3 separate regions of the Homo sapiens genome follow, and regions 2 and 3 are each linked to region 1. A link means that fine-mapping ties the variant in region 1 to the expression of a gene that starts in the linked region. Tissue or cell type: whole blood. Region 1 holds a variant in brackets; each other region holds the start of a gene. All regions are shown on one strand. Distances are between the middles of the regions.

Evidence for each region. PIP is the estimated chance that this variant, and not a neighbour inherited with it, causes the effect.
Region 2: it holds the start of FBXW7, and the variant in region 1 is fine-mapped to the expression of FBXW7 in whole blood (TOPMed, PIP above 0.99). The same link has a PIP of 0.9 or more in blood mononuclear cells.
Region 3: TMEM154 starts here. The variant in region 1 is fine-mapped to the expression of TMEM154 in whole blood (TOPMed, PIP above 0.99). The same link has a PIP of 0.9 or more in T cells and blood mononuclear cells.

Annotation. Positions count from the first base shown.
Region 1 is chr4:152,638,519-152,646,622 of GRCh38, reverse strand. It overlaps TMEM154 (transmembrane protein 154), which reads left to right. Exons shown (of 7, transcript NM_152680.3): 4 at 2,181-2,208; 5 at 3,450-3,535; 6 at 5,638-5,695. Among named protein-coding and RNA genes, the nearest start is that of TMEM154, 37 kb to the left of the region's middle. RefSeq lists enhancers at 2,135-2,194, 3,340-3,409. The variant C/T (reference allele first, on the strand shown) is at 3,121.
Region 2 is chr4:152,532,955-152,541,058 of GRCh38, reverse strand. It overlaps FBXW7 (F-box and WD repeat domain containing 7), which reads left to right and starts at 4,967. Exons shown (of 14, transcript NM_001349798.2): 1 at 4,967-5,932; 2 at 6,026-6,118. MIR4453HG (MIR4453 host gene) reads right to left here and starts at 4,795. Exons shown (of 1, transcript NR_033797.2): 1 at 1,796-4,795. MIR4453 (microRNA 4453) reads right to left here and starts at 4,631; the gene lies at 4,543-4,631. RefSeq lists enhancers at 4,672-5,031, 4,737-5,272, 6,522-6,621 and a silencer at 5,142-5,931.
Region 3 is chr4:152,676,202-152,684,305 of GRCh38, reverse strand. It overlaps TMEM154 (transmembrane protein 154), which reads left to right and starts at 4,309. Exons shown (of 7, transcript NM_152680.3): 1 at 4,309-4,436. The coding sequence starts at 4,373. LOC105377495 (a long non-coding RNA gene) reads right to left here and starts at 4,221. Exons shown (of 4, transcript XR_939359.3): 1 at 4,002-4,221; 2 at 3,633-3,719; 3 at 3,166-3,231; 4 at 2,644-2,943. RefSeq lists enhancers at 4,226-4,535, 3,846-4,675, 7,743-7,832.

The DNA of each region.
Region 1 (8,104 bases):
AAATGGAATAGGGGTTTGAGATGGAGCTTTGTAAGAGCTGCATTTGCCTCCTGGTTGCAAAGGGAATAGGTGGCTATTCATAAATATATATAGGCCAGGTGGAGTGGAGCGGGCAGGGCCTGATTGCTGAGGACAAGTAATTGGTCTTCCTCCTGGTTTAATGCTCTGCTCTTTGTGTGCCCTCCCAGATGTTTTTCTGTTGCCATGGTGGCTGGAGCAGAGGTAATAGCCATGGAGCAGGGAAGATGAGGCCGTAGAAAGCTTTTTGCTCTGTTTTCAAACTGATTACAGGAGCTTCACATTTGGTGCATCTGGAGCACTTTTGTGATGGCTTTTAAAAGTTTTCCTTCATCTGCTTGCAGGCTAGCTTTTGCTCACCCTGAAGCCTGTGGGGAACCCGGATTATAAAGATATATCCATGCCCACAACGGTGGGGCCATGCAGCCACTTGCTGTCTGGGAAAATAGTCAGGGGTTTATTCAGCAGGGGAAAAGGGAGAGGGAGGAGGAGGGAGTGACAAAACAGGAGGAGCTTTACGGGTCACCTGCAGGGATGTTCAATTGTGTAGGAGCTTTATTTATATTAAAATTCCTTAAGGAAATAGCCTTTATATTTTAGATAGAAAGTGTGGGTTTGTGGTGTCTGTGTGTGTGTGTGTGTGTGTGTGTGTGTGTGTGTGTGTGTGTGTATTCTCCTTTCCCCCATCTAAGTTTCTGAGGAGTCAGGCATCTGCAGGAAGCTTTAGATGCCTACTGGAGGGCAGGAGGACATAGCCTGCAGCTCCTGGAAGGCAAGCGGTGATGGCATGAAACTTACATCTGTGCCCAGCTTTCCTGGATTAGCAATGCCATTCAAGCTTGCCAACCCACAGGAAATTACAGCAGCTCACTGCTGCCAGGAACTCAGTTCCAGGTGTCTGCTGGTTGTGTTCCTTCACTGAGGACCTCCATTTCTCCAGGACAGACAATAGGAGGCCTTTAAGTGCCAAGGATCAGAAACCTCTGACTATTTGGTGGGCCCCTACAAAGTGGTTTGCTTTTCAATAGGTTTCACATGATGAATGGTGCAGCAGGCCTATGCTATCCACTCAACATCATTGCCTCATTTCTCTGGATGTGTTGGTTCTCCTGCCAAATGAAACAGGGCTTCAGCTGGGACATCAGGCTCCAATTCTCACCACTTGTTCATTTGGAGTCTGATGTGCATTACAGCCATTTTGTAAACAGTTACCTGACTCTCACCTCAACCAACAGGAACTAAAAACAGGCTTGTTGGAAGTTTCACTATGCTAAGTCTGAAATATTGGACATGAATTGAACCCCAGTGCTGGACAATTGAGGTTAACACCTAATCATTTATTCCACTGATATTGACTAGGCATTTACAAGGTACTGTGGTAGCTGGCTCAGAGCTGAGGGGATACCACGATAAATAAGACAGACACGATCCCTGCCCCTTTGTACTTTGTCTAGTGAGAGAGACAGACAGAAAAAAAAAAATCAAACAGACGGGTTGACCAATGAGAAATTGTGGCCAATATTATGAAAGATGCAAGCAAGGTGCTGAGCTGGGGAGCAACAGGAAAGATGGGCCCTTCTTTAAATAGAGTAGGTGGGGAAGGCCTCCCCGAGGAAAGAGTATTTAAGCTGGGACCCTGAAGTTGTGAGGGATCCAGCCATGCCAAGAGCAGGGGTAAAAGGAAAATTCCAAGGGGAGCCCTTGATGGAAGATCCCACATCCTCCACCAGGAGTGAGGCACAGTGTCACAGTGTTCAGCATGGTGTATCACAGGAGATGAAGCAGCAGCCTTTAGATCTGGGACATTTTACTGAAGGAGGCCAAGGAGCAAGCCCTCTTGTTTCACCCTCCCTTGCCTTTCCTTACCAATGTTTTCCTCTTCTTGTGGATGTAAAAAATAAAGACGGATGAACATCTGGTCTGAAGTGAGCGTTCTCAGCAGACCATCCACATCTAAAAGAAAGCAGATTTCACACGGATTAGGACCTCGTTTTAATATGGCAATCCACACTTCTTTGACTCTAAGTTAATGATCGCTCCTTTAAAAATGTTACTTAATGTCATTTTGCTCTCTTTGTAAAGGAGACTTCAGCTGTTGTTGAAATTAAAAGTTGTTACAGAAGAACAAAGCTAACATGACCTTTATGTTCATTTCCTTTTAGATGAACTGGGAAGTGAAAACGTGAAAGTGTAAGTTTTCCCTGCTGCTTCTGATCCACCTGGGGTGTGAACAGCAACTGTTAAGGTGGACAGCTGCCTTTTCAGGTGTTTTTGTTCTGACATCTTGCGGGACTCTCCTGCTTCCCAGGCGGGGTTGGAGATCCTTGGCAGCCTGAGGGAGGATGTGCTGGCATCCCCAAACCCTATCCAGCGTGTGAGTGTGATCTGGGCAAAGACAGCTTGGCATCTGTTTTATTTCATTGTCCTACATTCAGAAAAGAATCCTGACTGCTACCAATTTCAAGTGCATAGCAGTTAAATATTCTATCCCTAGCTGTATTTCAAGGACATTGGTTCATTTACTCTGATTAGAAATTTTATCACCAGGAAAGATACTTGAGCTGGTATTTAGCAGGGAGCCCTGGTCGAAGCAGAAGTTCACACAGCAAGAACCCCCAGGGATGGGAGAGAGAGAGGAGGAGAAGGGAAGAGTGGGAGGAGCAGGAGGAAGGGAGAGGAGGGAGGGAAGGAGGGGTGGGAGAGAGAAAAACAAGCCTCCACTCAGAAGCATGTTCTGGGGTGATGCCATATCCTCCCCATCTTCCAAGCAGCCTCCTGGTTTAGAAACTTTATCGCTTCCTCTACGCAGTGTACCGCCTACGCTGCTTTCAGAGCTGGTGGTCCATCCTTCCCCAACCCCATCTCCACTAACCACGGACTCTGTCCCCTGACTGTGCACTTTGAGCTTCTGCAAGTGAGGGCGGTGAATTTCTGAAAGCAACTGCTCCATTTCTCCAAGAGAGAAAGGCCTGGGAATTGAAGGGACAGGTGATAACTGTAGCCTGTTGACAGTGGCCTCTTGACCTGGGGCACTGATCAAAAAACCCCAAGGAACAGGAAGTGAAATTAAGCAAGGCTAAAATGCTTCATATGGCAACTCCC[C/T]GGAAGGGCCTCACCCTGGGAGCCTTGCAGACTTGACTTTGCACCTTCAGGGGAGCAGTCAGCCTCCTGGGTTCCCTTTTTTGTCCACTTGTTGGGCCTGTGGGCACCCCACTTTTGGACCTGTGATAAATGTATGTTTGTTTGTGTGGTAGCCTTTCTTCCTATTAAAGTTTGGTAGTTTGGAATAGGGCAAGCCCCCAGGCTTCCCTAGAGCATAAGGCACTGAATCAAGTTCATCTTCCTCAGGATCAGCATTCTAGTCTCTTTCCAAATGAAATTAGGCATCTTTCACATTTCTTTCTAACAAGTCTTTTGCTCTCTATTTCTAGCCCTATTTTTGAGGAAGATACACCCTCTGTTATGGAAATTGAAATGGAAGAGCTTGATAAATGGATGAACAGCATGAATAGAAATGGTATGTGGTAACCTAAAGTTGTTTTTTTTCTTTCCTCTCTAGTAACAGAAGGCTGCAACAGCTTTATAAATATCTCAATAAATCCTGGAGTGAGACAGAAGAACCCAATCCCACATTAGATCTGGTACATGCAGATAATAAACCTGGTCTGACAATACTTAAATATTCAGCTTAATTGTTGCCACTTGTTTTTATTTCTGTACAAGTTGTTGAAATGGTCTTTTTGAAGCAGAAAATGGTATTTTATTCAAGAAAGGAAATCTCTGAGGCCAAATGATCTGGAAAAAGTTAGCATCTGGCATTACCTTATACATTACAGAATTTAAAGATCTACAATTTTAAACTGACTATGGATATAAAACTTTATCAAATGTAGTATCCATAGATCTGTGCTGTTCAACGTAATAGATAATCACCAAATGTGGCTATTTAAATTTAAATTAATTAAAATTAAAATTAAAAAATATTGAGTGTTTAGTAGCCAATGGCTACTAAGTGGACAGTGTAATGTAGAATATTTCTATCACTTTAGAATGCTCTATTGGACATTGCTCATGTAGATGGTGATATACATACCCCATATAACAATTTCCAATTGATATCTGGCAGTAATGGAAGTATATGTTCCTTACTTTTTAGTAAATCAATAATGGGACTTTAAAATGATGACAGCTGCTTTTTCTTTTTCAAATTCCCTTTAAAAATTAATTATTTTTACTACTTAGATTAAATGAATAAAACCCAGCATTATCATGTCATTTGTATTTTTTACCATTTATCTTAAAAAAATACCCTAGGGTCTGTCAAATTCAACACTCTACAGTAGAGTTAGAAAATTCAGAGACTGGTTATAAGAACTATTACTACCAGGCCAGGCACGGTGGCTCACGCCTATAATCCCAGCACTTTTGGAGGCCGAGGCGGGTGGATAACCTGAGGTCAGGAGTTCGAAACCAGCCTGGCCAACATGGTGAAACACCATCTCTACTGAAAATACAAAATTAGCTGGGTGTGGCACATGTCTGTACTCCCAGCTACTAGGGAGGCTGAGGCAGGAGAATAGCTTGAACCCAGGAGGCGGAGGTTGCAGTGAGCCGAGATTGTGCCACTGCACTCCAGCCTGGGTGACAGAGCGAGACTCCATCTCAACAAAAAAAAAAAAAAAAAAAAAAAAAAAAAAAAAAGAATTATTGCTACCAGAGGCTTATCAAGGTGTGATTTCAAAAAAGAGCCACTCAGCTAACTTGTACAATTTCTAACAGTTTTTCATATTGAGGAAAGAAGGACTCTGTAAAGCCATTCTATTTGAGGATGGGGCGGGTCATTGAGATAGTCCTTCAGGAGTCTCGTTTTGTTGTTTTTCAGTTGCTAAAAGTAATATGCATACATAGTAGAATTTGGAAAATGCAAAAAAAAAAAAAAAAAAGGTAGAAGAAAAAAATTCACCACAGAAAGGCAATCTCTTCTTGCTATGTTGTTGTATTACGTTTTGTGCCAGAGATTTTGTGAAATATAAAATCATGATTCTGTCATACTCACTAAAACCAGAAAACTGGAAAAGGCATTTCTATTTGACAACTAAAGCTGAGTTATTTTGACACATAGGTGATAGAATCAAAGAATTTTTTTGCCCTTAAAAATAACGAGTGGTGTAATAGAAAAGAACTCATGACCATAGGAAGATCAGCTGTTTTCCCACTTTACCCAATTCTTTCCTACCGTGCAATCTGATGGAAATCATTCTGCAGACACGTTGGAACCTCAGGCGAAGCCATCTTATTCCACTGTCTATCCTGAGACATGCAGATTCTAGCTTTTGGAGCACTGGGGTGCTGCAGGGACAGAATAACCAAGCAGTGATGAATTGTGTCCTTTCCAGTGTCAGAGGCATGTTGAAGTTTTGCATCTGTGTTATTAGTGCTTTTTCCATTTCAAGAGCCTTGACATCATTAATCTTTTCATCACTATCACTCCTTGGTGAGGCCATTTTTGTGCAAGTAACCACGCAGATCAGAGAACTATGGTATTTAACTGTATCAGGTTTGTGGATAGAAAATACGATTTCAGTAACTAACAATGAGTTTGCTTTTATTCTGTCCTAGCCGACTTTGAATGTTTACCTACCTTGAAGGAAGAGAAGGAATCAAATCACAACCCAAGGTACTTCTCATTTCTACCACAGATTACATGTATATGGCGGGGGGCGGGGGGATTGGGAACCAGGGTGGAACACTTTTTGCTTACCTCCTCCGTGCCTATAATTCGTATGAGATCATTTACGCGGCTGGATATGTGCATAGTGTGGAGAAGAGGAAGTGTGTTACAGAAAATAGAAGGCCACAAAGTAAATATCCTAGGACTCTTTATCTTTAGAAATAAATGAGTATTGACATTTTCTTGCCCTTCTAAAGAGACACTGTTGCTTCAGCTTCTGTTTTAGTCATAAAGCTTTCCAATTATGACAAACTGTAGGTTTGTTTACCTTGGATAAATAGATGTTTGGTAAGGAAAACAGATGGAGGCGACAGTCTTAAAGTGGGTAACTGTAAACTAGAGTGAGAAAATAAATGGGAATTTTTAAAAAATGTTCCATTTTACCACTAGGTGGCTCTGGTTGATAGAAAAATTTTAGTGCTTTGGGGTTTGGGTGTATAGTTTAGCATTCCACAATCTCATTTTAAATTATATTATCTTTTGTGAGGATAGAAATGACCACATTTGGGGTGTTTTGATTAGAGAACTGTTTTGTCAGGACATGGGAAGTGTTCTAAGGAAAAAGGTTGGATGGTTCAGAAGGTTGGGGACTGGCTCTGCAGAGCTCTGCTGTGACCTTGGAGGTACTGAGTTGTTGGCAGCAAACACTCATGGACACCCGGAGAGAAGAAAACTTGAGCCTATGCCTGAGATATCACACTTCTGTTGGAATAAATGGAATAAACCTTCAGGCAGGATAAATCCTCTCCCTCCATGTTCACCAGAAGTCTGGTGCCAGTCAGTCACTTGTCACCAGGCAACCCCTGAAGCCTGAGCATCGCGAGGGAATACTGATTATTAGGCAATGGTTGGGGGCAGTCAGATGTTTATCTTCGGACCCTTTTCCTGCGTCTCCCCCCTAAACCTCACTTAAGAATTCACCATCCCAAATCTCTCCTCACATCACACCACCACAGTCTTACTCAGACAAACCTCAGCTCTGATGCCAAAGTCTATACCTATTGTAGATTTAGGTCAATATCACCACCCTAGGCATTTTCATGTTAAGATTATTGCCAGTTCAGGAAGGATTCTATCCTATTTAAAAGAGATTCCAGGTCATGCTTGGTGGCGCTTGCCTGTAGTCCTAGTTACTTGAGAGGCTGATGTGAGAGGATTGCTTGAGCCCAGGATTTCAGGATTGTAGTGAGCTATGATTGTACCACTGCATTCCAGCCTGGGCAACAAGCAAGAGCAAGACCCTGTCTCTAAAAGAAATGGGGAGAGAGAGAGGGAGAGAGAGGGGGAGAGAGAGAGAGAGAGAGATTGATTAACAAGCAGGTGGAAGAAAACAACAATGCCAGGGGGAATATTACAAAGGAATATTTTCCCCATGTTTTGATCTTACCTGGAAATATGTAACTATATATGTCTGGTATAGGGCTCAGATCACTACTAAAACTCCATAAATATCTTAAGTATCTTATTACTCTATCACTGATGAGCAACCTCAATGATGCTAAAAACTACCCTCAGTGGTTTTTACATTCCTGCCTTTTGCTCTTTGAAATTGTTGGCAACATGGAAGAAGCTTAACATTACAGAATTGTATGGCAGTGAAATCTTCTTAAAAATCAGATTTTTGGCCAGGCAATGTGGCTCATGCCTGTAATTCCAACACTTTGGGAGGCTGAGGCAGGCAGATCACCTGAGGCCAGGAGTTCGAGACCAGCCTGGCCCACATGGTAAAACTCCATCTCTACTAAAAATACAAAAATTAGCCAGGCGTTGTGGCGGGCACCTGTAATCCCAGCTACTTGGGAGGCTGAAGCAGGAGAATCCCTTCAACTGGGAAGGCGGAGATTGCAGTGAGCACTGATCACACCATTGCACTCCAGCCTAGGCAACAAGAGTGAAAGAAATTCTGTTTCAAAAAAAAAAAGTCAGATTTTTGAAATAATGAGAAAATGAGCTAGAGCCTTCACATAGTTAAATGATTGTTTTAAAAGGGAAGGTCTACATTCCACTGTGGGTCCAGAGCTGTGTGGCATTCACAGGATGGCTGTCAGGCCTTCACTTTATGCCCTCTCGTAATGCCAGCACCAGCATTCGAGAACCAAGAATGGCAAGTCCCAGATCTTTGTACCACTAGGCACTTTCTGATTACTTCAAAGGTTATTATGATATTGCAAAGTTAATTTTTTATTCATTAAAAAATCTAAGAAAAGTACATTGGATTTAGAACAAAGCCCAGAACAAAGTAAGTTCTCAATAAGCACTGGTTATTGCTAGTATAATTATTAGGAAGTTAGGACTGATGTACAGAAACTCACTGCCTTTATACTAAGACCCAGCTCACTGGATTAAAAAAAAATT
Region 2 (8,104 bases), 110 kb after region 1:
CTGGGGCTGCCTGCACACTCCATGCAGCAGGCGGCAGCCCTACCCTCCCAGGTGCAGGACCAGGGCATCTCCGCACTCTGCACCCTCTGGGGGACGGGAAGGCCCCCTTGCCCTTGCAGGCCCTGGGTGTCTGTTCCCACTGCTTGGCCTCTCCCTGCTCCTAGCACCTGCTCTGATCTCAGAATGGGGTTGGGGTCAAGCCTGGGCACTGTCACAGCCCGGCTGGGTATGTGCAGGCTTGCGGCAGTACTGACATGCTAGCCCACTGCTGCTTCCGCCCCCTCTAGATGTTGGGCGCTGACAAGCATGGGAGGGAGGCAAGGGTTGGCAGGGCTGAGGGTAGCCCTGTGCTGGCCCCACAGGCGCCCCTCTGCAGAAATAGCCTGGGTGCCATGAAAAGTGGTAGGAGGCAGACAGGCTCCAGTGTGGAAAGGAGCGGGTTCCCAGTGAAGTCCCACCTTTAGGCTGGGGAAGGCCTGAAGCCTGGGGATTGGACTGCCCATCCTGCACACTAGAGGGGGAACTTATGGTGCTTTTTCCTAGGCCTGCCCAAGGACCAATCAGCATGCACTTCCTCCCCTGAGGCCCGGGGCTCAGTCAGAACTGAGCAGGCGATGGATGACCAGCTGCAGAGAGGAGCTACCTTCTTTGCCGCTAGCTGAATACTTGTTAGGATGACCAGGTGCAGAGAGTAGCTATCCTCCCTGCTGAGAACTGAACACTTGTTGGGACAACCTTCCTGCATAGAGGAGCTCTCCTCTCTGCTGAGAGCTGAAAACTCATCAGGACAACCTGCCTAGCAGAAAGGAGCTGCCCTCCCTGCTAGCAGCTGAACACTCACTGGGACACCCTGGCTGCAGAAAGGAGCTATCCACTGTGGGTCTCCTCTCAGCTGTTCCATTACTCAATAACATCTTGCTCACCCTCCACTTGTCTGTGTACCTCATTCTTCCTGGTCACGGGACAAGAACTTGGGACCTGCCAGATGGCGAGGCTAAACGAGATATAACACAAATGGGGCTGAGACATCCCCATTGCTTGCCACGTTGCGGGTGAAGAGGAGGGAAGGGCTGTGGCCTTTTGGGGAGCCCAGACCTGGGAGCTCCCCAAGCCAACACTGTGACTCCCTCTTTGGGTCCCTGCAGTTCCTGGCGTCTCCAAGCTTCCGGGTGCCAATGTGTTCCCTGGTGCCAGCTGTGGAAGCTGCTTGCAGTATGCCTGGTCCAGCCACAGCCTTGCAGAGAGCTGGTGCATCTGGAGCTGCCCGCCCCACTGCAGCAGCTGGTGTGTCTGACTGCGCAGTAGCCAGACCTCACGCTCGCTCACACATGCCTTGCCACTCCACGCCGTACTTGCCCTTGGCAGGTGTGGGATCCAGGCCGGTAGCATAAGCTGAGCACAGCCTGCCAGGCCAAGTAGGTGGAATGAGCCCAGTGGGCCTGAGCAAGACTTGTGCAAAGGCGCCACAGGCTACAGAGGTTTCTGGCCAGAAAAGCGACACCCTAAACATCCCATAACATTACTTTACCTGTTCAAATGTGGACTATGAAAGGATATTGAAAAGTTGGGCATCTCAGAGACTTAGACATTGAAAAGATACTAACGCGCCACAAAAATGTAAATCCAAATAGCTAGTTGTATACAAGAAGGTCCTCAACAGCATCAGTAATCAGAGAAATGACAGTTAAAACCACAATGATATATTACCATACACCCACCAGACTGGCAAAACCAAAAAGACCAATAATGTCAAGTGTTGTGAAGGTGTGGAGCAATGGGACTCATATATACCTAGTGTGACTGTGTAACCCTCTAGAAAAGAACTTGGCATTATTTATTCAAGTTTATGATACATATTACACTCCCAGGTATATGTTATACAGAAACTGACGTAGATGTGATGGAATACATATATGAAGAATGTTCACATTAGCATTTATAACAATCCTAAACTGGAAACAACCCAGATGTCCATCAGCAATAGAATGGCTAAACATATTGTCACATATTGTTATAATGGGACACTGTAATATGCAGCAATGAAAATGCACAAATTACAGCTATAGGAACAACCTGAACAACATATGAATTAAAAACAATGTTGAGCAAAAGCAGCAAGAACAACAGATTACATATTATATTGTTCCAGTTACATAAAGTTCAAAAGAAAGAGTGAGACTAAACAATATATTGTTTAGGGATGCATGCTTGCGACAAAGCGACAAAGAAAAGCAGGGAAATGATTATCACAAATGTTAGAATAATGACTACACTTAGGAGGGAGGGAAAGAGTTGTGTTCGGGAAGGTCATGGCAGGGAGGGGAACTTCTGAGTTGCTGGAAATATTCCATTTCTTGACCTGGTTGATTGGTTACATGGTGGTTTCCTTTATAATCACTTATACTATATAATTGCTTTATGTATTTAAACTATATTTCACAATAAAAATGTTAAAATTAATATAGATAGTATTTCTGGAAAGCAAAATTTTGCCAGATAATTTAGCTTACACAATCTTTGACAGTAAAAGCCACTGATATGGAATAACGAAACACTGATTAGTTTCTTGTAAGAGCTCACTTTCAAGTGTAGAGGTCAAAAACCTTATAAGAGTCTCCGTTTTTCTATATTTTAACACAGTATTTAGATCCTTATCTTAAATTGATGAACCAGGGAAGTAACTATTAGCTAAAACTTCAGATTTTTTGGAATTTTTAATTAACTAGCTGTTTTCTCCTCTGGATTAATAAGCAATACAAGGAACTAAAGAGATGCAGACCAAGTTGGAAATGTATGAACTTCCTTCTCTCCAGTCTCCAGTTCCAGCTGTTTCCTCCTGTTATCAAGCTGGGTGCTGAGGTGGGTATCTAGCCCAGTAAGCTTAGTGTGCTGTTATTAAATACTTTCTAAGTAAGTGGCTCAGGCTCTCCTGAGTGCCCTTCTGTTCCTCAGCACTGAGGTTGTAAGGTGGAGCCACTGACAATGAAAACAGAAGATCACGCTGCTGAAAAACCCTATGTGGTACACACTTAACTGGAGGTGTTCTCTGCTGGGCTGCAGAACTCTGATGTTTGCACTCTTTTCCTTCAAAGCCTACAAAGGTTAAACTCTCTGAGGTGTTTAGCTTCACAAAATCCCCTAAATCTGTGTGTTTTACTCCTTTAATTTCCACCATTCCCCTGTTGTAAGATAGGAAGAGGGGGAAAAACAAAAAATATTTATTTTGTAGCCATGTGAGACCATCACTTGTTGGTCTGATTACCTGTGAGTCTTATTTGGAAGGCTGTAGCAGGGGATTGGTCACGTAAAGACAGAAAAATCCAGGGTAATTTAAGCAGGATATTTAACCTGGCTCTTGGAACTTCAGGTCAAGGGCAGTAGGGTCAGGTGCTAGTCTGTGAGTCTCTCCTTGGTTTTGCCACATCCTCCTTTGCCCCTCTCACCACCTTTCCCGCAGCATTTTAATGAACACGAGCCCTTGGATTTACCCAGTTAAAAGTTTCCTTAGTTTACTGTTTGCAGATGGTAGTGGCAGTAGTGGGAGAAACCCAGAGCTTCCCACATTTGTCTATAATACACTTGCTCCTACCTTACCCCCTCCTCCAGGTGGAAAGACTTGTAAAATCCATTACTACTGCTTCCCAAGGAGGTAGAGTGTACTAGGGTCCAGGGACAGAATTGTGGAATCTGCTTTCATCATTGCTGCTGCTTTAATCTTTTTCTCATACTATTCACTGAAGACAGATTTCTGAGGATTCTGGTCCTTTTATCTTAAATTTGTTTTCCTAGAGAACTACACTTTAAACTTCATGAGTTTCTACTTAACTTTCCTTTCCAGGATAACATCTGTAGGAAAAGCTGCATAATAGTAATAACACTTATTTTAGAAAGAAAATAACCTTTGAGTCAGACCTGAAACAGGCCAACATTTCTTGATGACAACGTACACTGATGAACCAAGACCAGAAGCTCTCGAAAGCTCCAAACCGTAAGAAAGAACCATTCGTAAAAGTGAGGGACTATTAAATTCTTCCCCTGACAGTCAAAAATCCTTCAGCAATCTCCCAGAGGATGGCTCCCTTCCAATCCTCCCTTCCCGCCGCCCTAACAATCTGCGCGAGGATGGGTCCCTTCCCTTGCTCGGCATTTCGTCTCCTTTTCCACTAAAGACTCAGGTTGTGACTCTGTACTCAAGCCGCACCCCTGTTTCCTTTCATGGCTAGGGGGAGGGGAGGAATGTATTACAACTCATTTTTACAATGCACTGCAGTTTACAAAGCGCTTGCACTTCCACCATATCCTCTGAGCTTCACGAGTGCCACGTGAGAGAGGCATTCATTCATTCATTCATTCATCAAACATTTGCTCGGCCCGACCACACGTTATCCAACGCTGGGTCTCACCCCACGCCACGGGAAGGGTGGGGCGCTCTCTCCCTGGAGCAGGTGCAGATCAGGCTGTAGGGTAACTCCTCGATCAGTCCGGCTTTTCGAGGGTCTGTTTGGGGCCAAATGCCTCACCTTCGGGTGGTGCGCGCAGCTGCCTGAAGACGCGGCCTGGGCCTCCTCCTTCCTCCCAAAGGAGCAGTCCCCACCTGCCCCGAAGGAAACCGCTACAGACCAAGCTCTCCAGGCCGCCCTCGGGTCAGGGGTAAGATCGGGCGGCAGCTTAGGCTCGACTCGGCTCCTCCCCTTCCTCTCTTCAGTTCTGACGCGGCCGTAGAGGCGGCAGCGGCGGTGGCGGCTGCGAGTCCCGCGGCCCGAGGCGCACCCACCCGCTCGCCGATCCCCACTTCCTCTTCCCTTGGAGCGTCATCAGAGCGCGCCAGAGGCGCCCAGGGCGGGGTGGCTGGAAGGGGGAAAAAGGCCAGCGGAGGAAGCCTCAGAGCGGAAAGAAGAGGGAGGGGGAAGAGAGCGGTTGCTAGGTGACTTGCGTCATCGGCAGGCGCCGCTCTCCTCCCGCCCCTCTCTCTGGAGTGAGGCGAGAGCCCCGCACAGAGCGAGGGAGACAGCGAGCTGAGCTCCGGGCGCTGCCGCTGCCGCTGCCGCCGCCGCCGCCGCTGAGACTGAGAGCGAAGGAGCATCCGAGAGATCCAGTCCCCCTGCACTGGCCGCCGCCGAGACCTTCGCTCTCACCTGGGCCAGCGGGAGCCGCGGCCGCACTCCTTTCCCCCCCTCACCTTCCCGGCCGGCAGCGGCGGCTGCACACGCCGGAGCCGGAGCCAGAGCCGGAGCCCGAGCCTGAGCCGGAGCCGGCGGCTTGGGGGGCAGGGAGGCGGCTACCACGGGCCGGGAGTGGGTAGCTGCTCCGCGGTGAGAGAACGCTGAGGAGGCGCCAGAGCTTCTGCCTCGTCCCGTGGGGCGTGGGGCGAGACCCCCAAGGTGTAGGGAGGGGGGTCCCAGCCGCAGCGACACATGCGGGAGCCGGGAGCGGGGGCGGCGCCGAGCGGAGCCGGCCGGGTCCCTCGCCTTGCCGCCGACTCGGCCACCCGCCCGGGGCCGTAGCATCTTGCCCCGGAGTGTATGAACCGGGGCCCCAACCAAGCTCGGCAACCACCCCCCGGCCGGGGGGGCGGGGACCCCGATGTGAAGCGGCGGCTGGGGCGGCGGAGAGAACAGGACCGACGCCGCCGTCCTTTCCTCACCTTCCCCCTCCCCTCAGCCCCCTCCGGGGGTCTTCTCCCTTGGCCAGTCGCCGGCCCCCCGGCTCCTTGGCTGGACTCCGGGAGGAGTTCCTAGAGCCCCCCTCCCCCGCCCCAGTCCCGAGGGCGGCGGGGCCGGGGGGGACCCGGGGGGCCGGCCGCAGCCTCCACCCAGAGGAAACTTTACAAAAACAAAATCCGGAGTCTCCCAAACCTGACTGTCCCGGGAGAAGTGGCCCTGGACGGGCAGAAGCCGCAGCCTGAAAAGACCCAGGAAGAGGAAAAGAGGAGGTAAGCGGGGCCGCCGCCTCCCCTCCCCTGGCAGCGCGGAAGAGACCCGGGTTGCCGCCTGGTTTAGCGACACGAGCACCGCTTCTTCCTCAGTACCGCGCCGGAGCCTTCCGCAGCTGCCGCTTCAGTCCGAAGGAGGAAGGGAACCAACCCACTTTCTCGGCGCCGCGGCTCTTTTCTAAAAGTGTGAGTGGCCCCGGGAGAGGGAATTGAGGGGGAGAAAGTGGGAGGATGCCGGCGCTTCCTCCTGGAGTTTTGCTGATGTTCTCCAGTAGTGTTGGGAGTCTATCAATGAGGGAGTCTAGCTTTATTCACGGAGGGGGGAAGGTGTTAGGGAGGCCTGTATTTTGTAACTTTTTAGCTCTTTGTACGAGTAATGCAAGTATGCAGGTTTCTGTCGGAGGAGTCTTTTCTCCAAAGTGAATACTCGCACCTTTCTGGCCAGCAGTTGGCAAAGGGAAATTGAGGAAGCCAGAGCATATGTGCGCACAGAGGCCATCTGTATCTGTAACCTTTTCCTGGTACTGTGGGTGTGTGCGGTGTACTTTTTGTTTCGGGGGTACTCTCATATAGGTTCCCGAATGAGAACTACTTAACCTGTGGACCCCTGAAAGTAAAATTCCTTTTTTAAAAAACAACAACAAACCTGTTTTGAGAGAGGTTCATTTCAGTACCTATTGGTACAGGAGTTAACCTTCTCAGTTACTGGGTCCAATTTCATGTGTGTCAGGAGGACACTGTAACAGATGTCAGTTACTCAGGAACTTGAGTTGTTAGGAATCACAACTTACTTGGGGAAGAGCATTTATCACATTAATCATTTTATAAAAGTTGTGATTTTTTCCCTTTCACCCCCCCCTTTTTTTTTTTAGAGTAACAAATTACAGCACTTTTTTATTTGGTTTGAGGCTTTGCTTTTTTGAATTATCTTTATTTCTGTATCAATTTAGGATACATCTTTGATATTTAAGTCAGGAATGATTTTTTCCTTCCATTATTTTAAAGCTGAAGTTTATAAAACCTTTGACTTGTATTTTAGGTATCTTGTCAGAGTACCAAATTAAAGGTTTATGAAAGTAATTAATATTTCATATACAGACCTTAAGGGTTAAACATAGAGCAGAATTTTATGTAAGAAGACATAGACAGTAGTATACTGAGAATTGTGGTCCGTCTAGACAACTGTGGGCTCGTTCTGTCTGAAGCCACTGCTGAGAGATACTTTGTGGGAATGAATGTAAGCCTGGGGTTATCTCTCTTTTCGAAGTTCTCCATTCAGGATCTTGATTAGATTAATTTAAAACTTTCTCAAACTTAACAATGTTTGGTCCTTTTTTTTAAAGTAATGAGTTCTGCAAGTTTATTAGCCTGTGTATTATGTGACAGTTCATTTACATATTCCATACCTGTGTCCCTAAACTTTCAGGACACAGTCAGAGTTTGTGTTTCAAGAATTATCAGGACAAGCCTCAGTTCATCTTTTCTTAATTTTATGGACTTTCATTATTTCTACCATCAGTTTCTCCAACTGTTGTCTTAGAATAATGTCTTTCATTTGACCACTTTTCCCTCCTCTGGAACTTCTCCCACTGAATTGTTTTTCTTTAGTTGCCTTGTTATGCTTTGGTAAGGAACTTTAAATTCTGTCCTTTAAATGTGTACTGACATGAAAATACTGAATAGTGGATGTAATGTTAGAATCAGAGTCACGTATTCTGTTTTTCACTAAGATATTGCAAAGAGAAATGTAGTCATTTTCTAAAATACTGTACCCAAAATACAGTAGAAGCTGTATTTTGGGAAGGAGGGGAGGACAAACTAAGAAACAAACTATAGTTTGAATGTAGGTTGCACTCTGTCAAAGTTGCTTACTAACTTTAGGACCTACTTTTATTGCTTATGGATTGGTTAAAAATTACGGTATTTTTTTTTTTTTTGAGACAGAGTCTTGCTCTGTCACCCAGGCTGGAGTGCAATGGAGCGATCTTGGCTCACTGCAACCTCCGCCTCCCAGGTTCAAGCGATTCTCATGCCTCAGCCTCCCAAATAGCTGGGACTACAGGCATGTGCTACCACGCCTGGCTAATTTTTTTTGTATTTTTAGTAGAGATGGGGTTTCACCATGTGGGTCAGGCTGGTCTAGAACTCCTGACCTCAAATGATCTGCCCACC
Region 3 (8,104 bases), 38 kb before region 1:
ACATAGGTGGCCCCCTCCAGTGCACTTAAAAAAATACTGCTGTAAAGGGATTTTCCCCCCATTTACTCACTTCTCTGTTCTCTGTCCTAAATGCTGAGGATAGACTGGAGAGCAAGACAGAGAATGCCATTGCTCTCAGAGGGCAATTAGAGGAGGACTGTGGATGTTCAGCAGTGAGCTGCTGCTCTGTCTCTTAGATACGCCCCAGCACCCTCTAGCCCAGAGCGCTGCACTGTGTCCCACGTGTCAACTGCCACTTTAGCTCCTAATCACAATCCTTTACAGTTTCATGTTGTGGTGACCAGGCCATCTACCTAGGCCCTGGAAGACCCTGTCATGGAAGCCCCTAGGATTATCCAAACCTTGCAACAGTTTCTCTGAAGAGTATTGGCAGCCAGGATGCAGAGACAGAGACCCCCAAGGGTGGAGATAGGCTGGTCAAGATGAGCCCGGCTGTGCAGGCTCCAGCTGCCCCCACTTCACGCGCAGTGAGATGGCTGTCAGCCCCTCTCCTGGCTGTGGCTTCTCTGCACACGCTAAATGTCAGCCTAATCCTTCTGCCCCAGCCTCTGCCCTGCCCGGCTACCTCTCTGGGCATTCCTTCAGAACCTGGGACTTCAATCTGCCTCCTCCCTGCACCTTCCTAGCTGGCTTCAGAGTGATACACAGGCCCCACCTGATGTTACTATTATCTTGTTTGAGGGCCAGCCCACAGCCAACCAAACACCCAGGAACCATCCACTGTCACTAGCAGGCATTTAGACAGAGAAAGAAGCTCCAGAACATTTGTATGTGAGTGTCGATGTGAGAGCGTGTGTGTGTGAGCACGTGTGCACATTTCTGAGTATGTGAGTGTGCCTGTGGGTGTGTGTTGGGAGACTGGATGTACAAATGGACAGTGGCCAAATAATATATGCAAAAACAGAACACTGGCTCCCAGCTTGCAGCAACCAACCCCCAGAAACCAATTCACTATCTTCAGTAGCAAGTCTAGGAAGCCAGCCTGCTAGAAATCAAACTTGTAGGAGGTCAGAGCACCTTCTGACAGATTCCCTCATTTTTATCTCCTCTTCTGATCTAGCAGCAGCAAAATATGCACCTCCTCACCAATCACTAGAACTTGCTGCTGGTTCCCCATGCCAGCAGCCTCCCTTCAGGCCATACCTGAGCCTTCCTTTTGTTTTTTTTCTGAAACGACTCTTGCTCTGTCGCCCAGGCTGGACTGCAATGGTGGGATCTCGGCTCACTGCAACCTCCACCTCTCAGGTACAAGTGATTCTTCTGCCTCAGCCTTCCGAGTAGCTGGGATTACAGGTACCCCGCATCATGCCCGGCTAATTTTTGTATTTTTGTAGAGATGGGGTTTTACTATATTGGCCAGGCTGGTCTTGAACTCCTGACCTCAGGTGATCCGCCCACCTTGTCCTCCCAAAGTGCTGGGATTACAGGTATGAGCCACTGCACCCGGCCCTGAGCCTTCCTTTTATCGACTGTAAAGTTATCTCATTCCTTGGCCTGCCTTTGGGTCTGTGCCAAAATGCAGCGATGGTGGCTGACTCTCTTGCTATGGCAAGCTCTGAATTAATATCCATTGCTTGGTTTCATTTGCTTGTGCTCATTTAGTCTTCATTTATTTCCACCATGTGCATGAATGTGTGTGTGAGAGACAGCTGTGTGTGTATCTGAGTGCATGTGCACATCTGTGTGTATTGGGAATGGCAGGATCGGAGTGTGAAGAGGAACGCGGAGAAGGCTGTCTGCACCCACTGGAAGATCCTATCATTTATCTGGATTTGTTCCCTTGGAGTCCCTCTTCTTTTATGGCCCATGGAGTGGTGGTGGGGAGGGGGCGGGGGGAAGGGAGGGAGGATAGGATGAGAGTCACTTCTGTAGCACAGACAGTTGATTGTAAAAGTCACACTCCTTTGTGTAAAGTAATAAAGAGTCCCTAGACATGGTTCCCAGTGTCCCTTCCTGCCCTTCTGAACATGATGAAGCACCATACTTCTTTCCTGCTTTCAGACAGCCAATGGCAGGCTCCAAAGTGGCATTACCCCTGCCTGTGTGCCACTCACTCTGAGGTTCCCCTGTGCCCCACATCTGGGACTGAGGCCCTGACTTCCTGCCACCAGTGCATCGGGATTTAATCTGAGGCTGGGTGGCTATTTGCCTAAATTAATGGTTGCTAAAATTAAAACAGAGGTAAATAGCCCTTTACCTACCACACAGCCTCCCTGGGATTTTAACTGCAGCAAAGAGATCATTGAGGTGCTACCATTTTCTGATCAATCATGGTAATTTTCTTCCCCCTAAGATCAGCTTAATCATGCTAAGGGTCTTAGAGAGCACAGGGGTCAAAAGAAAATTACATGGTTGGGCAGGATTTCTCTGCAGCTCCAGTTTATTTTGTACCTCACTCTGATTTAGTGTTGCACTGCTCAGAAGCAATGCATAGTGCACTTGTTGAAACAGTAATGAACTGTTTGGCCATGTCATGGGGCTCAGCAGAGGTCCACAGAATAAGACAGTCTGTGGTCCAATCCACAGACACCTGACTGCAAAAGCTTCCACAGGGAGCTGAAGTTTAAGATGAAAGAAACGAAGGCTGACAACCTTGCCCTTGACAAACATTTGCCTCCAGCCTGGGATTCAACAATGTTTTAATAACATTTAATAATATTTTAATAGGGCATAAATGGTAAAATGGAGAGAACTCCCAAGCCCTGGGCCTGCTTTCTTGCACGTGTGTGTCACAGCTGCAGAAACACGTGCTTGTACAGGAATAATTGCCACCCCAACTCAGTACCAGCAGGTCTTGGAGCCCGTGATCTATTCACATGCTCAGCAAGTGTTTAATTAATAGTTCTTTCTCTGTTGTTTTCAAATCAATCACCCAGTTTTGAGCACGTCTATTTTCTCCTGCTGTTTGTTCTGTATTGTCACCTGTGGTGCAAAAAGCATATTTTATCAAGAATTGACTTAATTGCCAGTTTAAAACATTAAAGTGCATACTGTAAATCCATTAACAAACTGATCCTTACATGAATCACCAACCTATTTCTTGTGAATAATAACTGAGATAAACAGTGACTAATGACATTGAAAAGCAGCAATGCATTAAAGAAAAATTAACAGCTATGTCAGGGGCTAAGGAATTCCAGTCACCTCATACGTTTGCACCAACCAGATCACTGAAGACAAACGACGGGAAGTCATGACTCAGATGGTGATCTGCAGGGAAAGGTTTAGAGATGAGATGTGTCTGATGCCTCAACACTACCCCTCTCTCCATCTGTCTGTCTCTCTTGGCACCACGATTATGAAACTGCATTCTGAATGCTTAGGCCCTAAACCTAAACCAAGGGAAGGACCTCCAATAGAACACCCAACACACACTAATCTCCACTGTATACTAGACACAACCTTTCTGTATTGTTTCGATTGGATAGGATTTCTACCATTATTCTATTTCGTTTCTGTCCTGTTTTGTTTGTTGTCTGAGAACTTGATTGTCAAGTAAGAAGGAAGGAAGGTGAGATGCAGATTCACCCCTACCTCCACCCTCAGAGCATATTCTCCTTTGGAAATGGACCTTGAAAAGATCATTTCTCTCTGGGGAAGCAGAACATAACCTTAAGGTGTGGGTGTGGCATCCACCTCCATCTGGCGTGGGCCTTGGTGGGAGGAGGGCATTCCAGAGTGGAGAAAGGAGAATGGACCTGGCGGAGAGAAGTGGTCTGGCAGTTTTCTGATGATGCAGTTGTCCCTGCTGTCTGGGCCTGCGCTATCCAACACAGCAGCCACTAGCCACTTGGAGTTATTAAAATTTTATAAAAATTCAATAAAATTTAAATTCCATCAGCACTAGCCTCAGTTCAAATGCTCAGTGGCCAATGTGGCTGATACTGTATCAGACGGCGCAGACTTGGAACATTTCCATCAGGGCAGAAAGTTCTACAGGACAGCTTCTTCCTAGGGTCTAGGCAGCCCCGGAGCCTCACCTGGGGGATAAGCAAAATCACAGAGTGAGAATGCGTGTGGTCCAGGACCCCTCCCAGTCCCAGATACCGAACGACATCTGAGCAAGGGACTCTGTTGCCCCGGGGACGGTTTCAAAAGCTGGAGGCCGGGACTCCAAAGGGCTGGAGAGGCGTGATAATAGAACCAGTGCTTCAACAGCAACTTCTCTTTTGCAATCCTTGCTGGTCTGACAGGCTCCTGCAGAATTACATCACTTCCTAAAAAACAGGCACACACCTCTCCTTCAAGTCAGCACCGACCCAAACAAGCAGGAAACAGGAAATGTTCACGTTTCAGAGAGGCTGCAGCCCGGCGCAGCATCCTGAGCGCGCCTCTGCCGAGGCGAGCGGACATGCAGGCTCCCCGCGCAGCCCTAGTCTTCGCCCTGGTGATCGCGCTCGTTCCCGTCGGCCGGGGTAAGCCGCCTCCACTTCCTACTCCTGGGAAGGAGGATCGCAAAAGCTGGTAGGGTGCCCGAGGCTACAGAACTCTGCCGGGGAGGGTGACACCCAGAAAATCTAATCCTTTCTGTGAAAGAAGTGGAGAAAATTAGAACTCCTTTTTTTGGGGGGTGGGATGGAGAGGGGACTTCGCTTTCGCTGCAGCTGTCTAAACTGGCTACAGCTCTCACTTCATTTAACCCTCTTTCAGTCTTTGTCTTCCAGGAAGTGTGCGTCCCTGTAATTTACCAGCTTTAATGGGCATATTAAGAAAACCATAAACTTTTTGGCAGTTTATGTAAAAAAAAACAAAAGCTTCAATTGGCTGAAACAGAGACATGATTAATTTGCTTTTTATGGTGTGGGCTGAGAAGTCTGCTGATTCCAAAATCTCCTGGAAAAACTGGGGTGTGAAAATTTACTACTAGAAAGCATACTAAAGAAACGACATAAACTTAAAAAAAAAAAAAGGAAACGGGAAATTATCCGAAGAGCTACCAAAGAGCTATGTGTTAGAGGGTAGCCCTCTAACACATCAAGTAAGGTCTTTCATCTACTTTTATTGCACCTTGTTACTTTTACAGATTTTTTTTTTGCATTGATTGTTACTAATGAAGATTTGTTTGAAAAAGTAATATGATTGGAACCAATCAAAGGTATTGGAAAAAACAATATTGAATCTCATTATTATGGGCTAAAAGCAACAACTGATTTACACCCTTGCCAGTTGCTACAACAAGCACAAGCACCTTCAGCTGCCTCTCTTGTTGACTTGCCTTTGGGCAAATACACTGGCTGCCCATTGTTTCTGTCAATGAACACCGACTGCTTCTAGTGTAGGGCAGTATTTACCAAGCAAAAGGAAAGTTCTCAAGCTACAGTTCTTTAGATAGAATGAGGGACATCAGCCCCAACCTAACAGATGTGACAACTTCCTGGAGGTCAGCAGCCAGCACCCAGCCACCCCACTCCATCAATTTCTCTTCCCCTGGGTGTTCTCCATGTGGTCCCCCAGGCATCTGAGGTAGAAAACAAAGTGGAAGGCAAATCATTCCAGCTGAAAAGATGTCTGGTTAAATTGAGTTTAGTGTTCAGAGTGGGTTTGGAAGTTGATGTGTTGTTTTATGCCCAGTGTTTTGGAGCTGGAAGGGAACTTGAAGATGATGCAGCTCAAACCATATTGGGCACACAGGTGAAGAAACAGAGGTGGAAGAAGGGAGATGTCTGGGTCTTGCTGCTAGTCAGCTCTTCTGGCTTCTACTCCAGAGTTCTTTGAGCTCCTCCACCCCCCACCACCACTGCCCCCCTCCCCCCACCGCCGCCCCGGAACCAATCACTGTCTCTGCCAAGAGCTCTGGAACCTTTCGTAGTAGGACATCAGGGAAGAAAAGCCTAGCCATCCTCCTTCCACCTCTTCTATTGCACAACACTGCCACAGGTGCCTCAAACACTCCCTTAATACTAATTCATCTTGCCTGAACTTTTTTTTTAGCTTCTAAAAAATGATTGAGTCCTAGTGTCTGCAATTCAGGAGATGCAAAAAGAGAATCTGAAGAGACTTGGTTAAAGTTGCCTTTCTGACACCTGAATCTGATCGTGCACATCTTCCCCCTTAAGGACCCCTCATTTATGCCCCTTCACTTGTTCCTCATTTTTGCCCCTTAGACTCTCACTGCAACCTCCTTCCCAGTGGCACCTCCTTCCAGTTGTCGTCCCCCTCCGTGGCTCTTGCCTATAATGAATACATTCTTTTTCCTACCTAGCAAATTCTTGTATCACCTTAAAAGTATCAAACTAAATGTGATCTCCTCCTTGATGTCTCCTTTCTCTGCCCCTTCCCTGGAGCTCTACTCGTACCTGCTGCTGTGCCCCGATAGACCTAAACTTCTGCTAATCACTTTGAACCATAATTGTGTCCATGCCTCCCAACTGGCTGTGAACAGCTCCAGGGAAAATCCTCTGTAGTTCACCTTTGACTTTCCAAAATCCTGTAAGGGCTCAGCATAAATGAGAAAATAATTGTTGATAAATATGAAAATCATCCCTAGAATGGATATGAGGCTGATTACAAAAAAAACTGATAGCTCCTGAAAACAGGTAGTGTTGGAATGTAAAGAGAAGTCAAAGATGAAAAGTTGCATTTCAGTAGAGTGCAGGGATTACCTAAATAATCCAACATGCTAATTGGGCCCTGCTGGGATTCCCAATGTCTGAAAAATGCCCACTTGCAAAAAGCTGTTGAATAAAAGCTATGACTTTGAGATGATTCATCATGGAAAAGGTGATTTTAAATTAAAGATTTTTAAAATTAATTAATGTACACTACTTTTAGCTAATAGTGCCTAAGGCTTCAGGATATGAGTTACTTTCTAGGTGTCACAGGTATATTTCCTTGAATTCTTCAAAAAATACCTGGGGATGTTTGTTAGATGAATCCAACCTACTGAAGGGCCTGACACTGTTTGTGAGTATACTCTGAGATGTATCTCAAATTAAGCCTTTATTAACAACGAGCAGGCAACATGAGATAATATCTGCAGTTGCATGAGACCAGCACTGTTACCTCTGAGTCAGCGACCTCTTCTCTTTTTAGAGATAGATAGCCTGACATAGAATTGAGTTCTACCCCAAGAGAAATAATTCACTTGGAAGTCACCAGGAGAGAAATAAGAAAGCAGCTTTTCTGGGACTATAATGGAATGGGTGAGCATAGTTAAAGGAAAGCTTGGGCCTAGGTGCCTTGGCCAGTGTAGGATCCTAAGAAAGTTCAAACTCAAGGAGATGTTCTGCTCATGGAGTAAAGTGGGGCAGGGGTGTCCCCGTCTCTGTTCTTTATGCCCTGTCAGTGTCAGCTTAATACTATCAGAAAACCAAAAGCAATTTCCTAAATACCAAAAGCATGGGATTTGTTAGTTGCTAAAAGCAGAATTGTTGCAGAAGGGAGAGCTGAAGGCCATGAGGCAGAAACAAGGATGCTGTGACTGTTTTGGTGGCCAAACAGAGAGGAATGGGAGATTTTCTGGGCTGGTTCAGAAGAATAAGAATTATATAAGTATTGGATGAATCTTGACAAGGAGAGAAAGAATAGTAGAAAATACTAGCTATGTAAGTAAGGCTACACATTCTGACACTGTGGTATCTCATATCTTATTTTAATGAACACGGCTGACATCTGCTGTTTCCTGGGACAGTCCCAATTTCAAGTATTAATAACAATAGTAGCTAACATATATAGAACTCATTATAGGTCAGGCACTATTCTAAATGCTACATTCACTAACTCATTTAATTCTCAGAACAACCTTATAAGGTGGGCACTATTATCCCTGTTTTTACATTTGAGAAAACTGAGGCACAGAGAGGCTAAGTGACTTGCCCAAGGTCACACAGCTAATTAGTGAATCTAAGTAAGATTCTGCCTCAGGAGTCCATTCTCTAACCATACTCCATACTACCTCTGGGTTTCCAAGCTCTGCCAGGCTACTCGTTTAGTTTTGGGTTTAGAAAACTGTGGTTGTTGAACCTTTCCAGCTGTAGGTGCAGCACAGAACTCTTGGCTAGGCTTTGCGGTGGCTGCATGTCAATTATAGAGCTGCATTTGTTTGCACTGGGTCAGAGACTGGCTGAGAGGAAGAGGAATGATG